2 separate regions of the Homo sapiens genome follow, and region 2 is linked to region 1. A link means that fine-mapping ties the variant in region 1 to the expression of a gene that starts in the linked region. Tissue or cell type: blood mononuclear cells. Region 1 holds a variant in brackets; the other region holds the start of a gene. All regions are shown on one strand. Distances are between the middles of the regions.

The links. PIP is the estimated chance that this variant, and not a neighbour inherited with it, causes the effect.
Region 2: TMEM184B starts here. The variant in region 1 is fine-mapped to the expression of TMEM184B in blood mononuclear cells (TOPMed, PIP above 0.99). The same link has a PIP of 0.9 or more in transverse colon and whole blood.

The regions. Positions count from the first base shown.
Region 1 is chr22:38,224,996-38,227,751 of GRCh38, forward strand. TMEM184B (transmembrane protein 184B) reads right to left here. Exons shown (of 9, transcript NM_012264.5): 6 at 1,784-1,875; 7 at 429-598. Among named protein-coding and RNA genes, the nearest start is that of SNORA92, 1.7 kb to the left of the region's middle. RefSeq lists an enhancer at 1-164. The variant C/A (reference allele first, on the strand shown) is at 1,596.
Region 2 is chr22:38,271,647-38,274,146 of GRCh38, forward strand. It overlaps TMEM184B (transmembrane protein 184B), which reads right to left and starts at 1,364. Exons shown (of 9, transcript NM_012264.5): 1 at 1,238-1,364. RefSeq lists an enhancer at 115-824 and a silencer at 887-1,516.

The DNA of each region.
Region 1 (2,756 bases):
GGGTGTCTGGACCCAGAATGATTCCTTTCCTGCTCCCCCTTCTTCCACAATGCCCCATTCAGCTGCCCACATGCCCCAGTGAGGATGTGAGCAGGGCCACAGCTGCTCCTGCAGGGCAGGGGTAGCGACACAAGGCCACAGCCTCCGGAAACCCCACTCTCCCAGCTCTTTGCCACCGAAACTGAGATGCCAGCAATTACGCAGGGTCTCCTGGGCCCTCTCATCCATGTAGCGGCCCCACCAAAGCTCTCCCTAGCCCCTGGGAAAGGCCCTCGAGGGCTCAGATTTCACCCCCAGCAAGTGCCCAGTGGGCTGAGGCCCCTCTGAACAGGCCCTACAGGCACCAGGGACCATAAGCAGAAGGGGCAGCAGGAAGCGCAGAGGACAGGGTGGCATGGGCAGCCTCCAGGTGCTGGGAGGGGGCTCACCTTGCCAGAAGGAAAGAAAGATGACGGACTTGACCATGAAGAACTTGAGGACGGGGCTGTAGGGGCTGAGCAGCTCCCGGGTGGCGAAGTAGAAGAGGAAGAGGGCGTAGAGGGCCAGGCTGACGGAGATGTTGTAGATGATGGTCACGTAGAGGTAGCCACTGGTGACGCTGCGGGACGGGGAGCATTTTCTGGCTGGGACAGACCCTTGGAGGGAAGGGGCTCTCCTCGACTGCACCACACACAGTCCCCATGGCTCTCAGCCCCACACCTCCAGCAGAGCTCAACGAGCCACTGAAGGGGTCAGAATGGGTGATCAAAGCGACAGACAGGGGTGGGGGTACATGGGGTGCGCCTGCAGGCCAGACCAGCTCTACTGCCTCTGCGTGGCTCGTGGACTTGTCTAAGCCCTGGTGCCCACACTCCTAACGTTGGACACCAGTGTGGAAGCCAGGGCCGGGCCCGAGGCCATAGCCTGACACTCAGATAACAGGCGTCAAAATAGGTGACGCTGCTCAGCTCTGCTGCCTTTTCACTCGGTCGGCTGCATCCCCCTGACCTCCTTTTGCCCACCTGCCCTGGCAGGGCTGTTACACAGTTCACAGACAGTGTGTGCCGAGAGCTTGAAAGCACAGGGCTAGACACATGGTCACTTTTTTTTTTTTTTTTTTTAGATATGGAGTTTTGTTCTTGTCACCCAGGCTAGAGTGCAATGGCGTGATCTTGGCTCACCGCAACCTCTGCCTCCTGGGTTCAAGCGATTCTCCTGCCTCAGCCTCCCGAGTAGCTGGGATTATAGGCACCCGTCACCACGCCCGGTTAATTTTTTGTATTTTTAGTAGTGATGGGGTTTCACCATGTTGGCCAGGCTGGTCTTGAACTCCTGACCTCAGGTGATCTACCCGCGTTGGCCTCCCAAAGTGCTAGGATTACAGGCGTGAACCACTGTGCCCAGCCACGGGGTCACTTTCACTAAGCCCAGAATGAAATGGGTGTGGACAATTTACACAGCACGGGCTTTGTATCTGTGGACTTGAGCCGACCTCTTGGGGCTCTGACCCTCTCGCTCCCTGCCTCAGCAGTGGTCACTGTCCCTTTGTGGCCCATCCCTTCATGGTACCACTCTGCAGCCTGGACATGAACGTGACTGCTGCCAATGGCTCACTC[C/A]GGGGCTGGCAGCGGGGCCAACTGCAAGGGTGTCCACTGCTGGGCTCAGACTTCAGGGGGGTTGTGAGCACCAGACACCCAGGAAGGTCATGGCTGTGCGGCCACTCTGGCTGCCCCCTTCCCTGAGCCAAGGCACCAGCCTGCGCCAACACTCCTCCCACACACCCCGGGGAGCACCCGCTGCTTACTCAAAGTCCCCATCCCGGTACTTGCCGAAGGCCTGGAGGACCACAGTGCTGACCGCCATGAGTGGCTTCACCACACAGAACTGCAGGGTGGCCTGTTGGGGGGAAAAGGAGGTTGAGTGTGGAGGAGGAGCACAGAAGGCATGAAGCAAGCCCTGCCTCTGGCAGACGGAACTGTACCGGATGGAGGGACAGAGAGGATGAAGGAGACGGAGAGGACGGAGGGATGGAGGGACGGAGGGGATGGAGGGACGAAGGGATGGAGGGGATGGAAGGATAGAGGAGATGGAGGAGATGGGGGGTGGCTACGTGTCCTGCTCCCAGGGGACTGCTGTCTGCGCGGGGCGGGGGGCAGAACATATAGGAGATGCAGCCAGCGCAATGCCGTATGTGATATGAGCATGTGGAGGAAGGGAGGGAGGAAGGGAGGAATGGTGTGGCAGGGCACGATGGAGGCGGGAGACAGGAGATGCACACAAGGAAGCTTCTCGAGCCAGGACCATCAGGTGGGTGCCGGAGATGAGAGGCTCGACAGGCAGAGGGGGCAGCTTGCACCAAGGCCCCGAGGCAGAGGGTGGACAGGTGCAAGGGGCTGCGCACTAGAGAGGTGGCTGAGGAGATGGGCAGGGCCAGGTCCTGGAGACCTTGGTGCCCGGGGCAAGGCTAGGGCCCTGCTCAAGGAACCAGCCACCGGGAAGCCGGCGCAGGTGAGGGCCTCCTCCCATCCTCCATGTCCACCCCCGATCTGGTTCCTAGCCCTACTCTCTGGGCCTGGGTCCAGGGTTTCTGGTCAGCAGAGGTCACTCTGGGGATGGAGGTGACCTGCAGGAGCCCAGAGCACGTGGACTCCAGAGTCTCAAAATCTGAGTTTGAACTCTGGGGACAGCTTGGGCAGACACTTGGCCTCTGAGCACAGACTCCCTGATGAAAAGGATGTAGTCACTCCCCACACCACAGGGCCACTGCTGCGGGGATG
Region 2 (2,500 bases), 47 kb after region 1:
ATCGTGATCACCTGTTTCCAAATCTGATTCCCCCATGCTTGAGAGCTCCTTGATGGCTTGGGCATCAAATGTTTCTGTCCAGGTGGGCACACATACCTGGCTGCTGGGGCTCTCCCACCCCAGCGTCCCAGGTCCCAACTCTGATACGCACAGCACCCTAGGCAAGGTTCAGAGGTGCAGAGCCTAGGGGTTCTACCAAGGAAGCTAAATAGGTAGATGGAAAGGGACACTGTAGGCATAACCTGTCAACGAAGTCACACCTCTGAGACCTGCGCTGCCTCTGCAGGTGCAGGTGAGCTTGTTTGCCTGGCTGACTCTGCAGCGCAGGGCCTCCAGGGCACAGATTGCTGCTTCTTTCCTTACAAAAGCACCAGCAGTCAGATAAATAATACATGGCCTTCACCTCACCACAGGTATCAGGCATGCAAATACCTGCTTTGCCCCAAAATGCCCTGGAAAGGAGGGAGGAGTAAAACGTCTGGCCTTATACAACACCTCCAGAGGGGATATGTATTGGGAATCCATGCCCAACCCCCAGCATAACTGCCTTGCCTTGGCCTGGAGCCACCCAGCACTGGAGGTAAGTGGATCCAAGCGAGGTACCAAGGGTGTGCCCAGGAGGAAATGTACAATTCACGGGAAGGATACAGACACCCAAAACCAGTCTCCACGGTCCCTTTGGGGGCAAACATCTTTCGAGCCCCAGGTCCCAGTCGATCCCCTTCCAAACCTGCGGACCTGTGTGGCGGGCGTGTACACCCTCCACTCACGACGCAGCCCCGAAAGCCCCCCGCCGACCACCCTCCCAGGTCACTGCCACCCGCACAGGGCACGGACGCCTCCCCCACTCACTCGGCCGTGCCAGTCGCCAGCACACCCACCCGGGAGCACACAATCCCTCTTGCAAAGCGCCTTGGTCCATCCGCCTCCCTCTCCCGGGGCCGCCCCCCGGACAGGTCCGATTACACTCCAGGAGCTGCCCCCGCCACGTTGGCGTGGAAAGGGAGCGGGCACACCCACGGGCGACCTCGCGGGGCGGAGAGGAGGCACGGGTGGGGAGACGGATGCCCCCTCCCTCCGCGGCCGCACCGGCCTCCGTAGTGCCCTCCCCGCCCGGGAGCCGGCGGCCGAAGCCGGGCGTCCCTCGCGCGGGCCTCTCCGAAACAAGCAGCCCCCCGCGCTCGGGAGTCGCAGCTCCCCCTTGGGGCTCCCGGGCGAGGCCGGCCAGGCGGGATACCTCAGGAGCCCATGGCGGTGGCGGCGTCTGCGGACGATGCGCGGCAGCCGGACTCTGCGGGCGGGGCGGGCGGCGCCGCAGCCCCGGAGTCTCCGCCGCCGCCGGCGCGTCCCGGGCCCAGTGGAGTGCAGCCGCGGCGCGCATGCGCTCTGGGCTCGCCGCCGGGGAGGGCGGGGCGGCGGACGCGGCTGAGATCACTGCCTGGGCCTTAAAGGGGCCGCGCCCCGAACCCCAGCCCGCCGCCCCGAACCCCAGCCCGCCGCCCCGCGGGTTGGGGCGCGACCCGGGTTCTCTTGCCACTCACAAAACCAGCTACGACCGGCCCCCAACCGCGAGAGCTTTCTGGGCTGCGATCTCTGCCCCTGACCCTCGCTGGTGCTTCACTTCTTTTAACCCTAATTTCCTCCATTTGAGCCTGTTTTGAAGATGAAACGAAATACAATGGCTATTTGTTGAGTGAAGGATGCGTGTGGAATTGTGGAATGAACGTGGACCGAGTGTTGTGTGCAATTAGGCCAGATGAAATGGCAAAGCACTGAAAGAGGCCTTTTTTTCCCACTCCGCTTAGCAGCGATTCTTTCTTGCCCCGTCTGGCTCTAGGCTGCCGAACTAGCAAAAGTCTTCAGATAGGGTTCAAGCCGCCTAGTCCATTTCTGTTTGCCGGTCCAGACATCACCTAGGTTAACTGAACAAGATAAAATGCAATTAAGTTCTGGCATTGATGTGCTCAAGATCCCCAAATGTATTTATGTCTCCAGACTCCTCGCCTGAACTGTCTACCCAACACCTCTTCCTTGGAGCTCCAGCAGGCATCTCAAAGTCAGCGTGTCTGAGCTGAGCCAACCCCACTTCCACACACAAAAACCTGCTCCCTCTCAGCTTTGCCTCCATCAGCTGTTGACAATTCCATCCTTCCAGTCCCCAGGCCAGAACTCGGAGTCAGCTGTGAATGAATGCCCCCCTTCTGCCCGCTACCCAATAAGGCAGGCAGGAGATCCTGTTGGCTCTACCTGCAAAATAGATCTAGACTCAGATGTCTGCCACTCCTCCTCCAGTGCTACCACCCTGGTCCAGTATTTGCACAGGATTATTGCAGAGTTCTGCTAACCCCTCTCCCTTGTTCCAGCCTTGCCCTCTGATCCATTCTATCAATTCAGGGGTGAGGGAGATCCTTTTTTTTTTTTCTCTTTTTTCTTTTTGAGACAAAGTCTCGCTCTTTGTCTCAAAGTTGCCCAGGCTGGAGTGCAGTGGCGCGATCTCGGC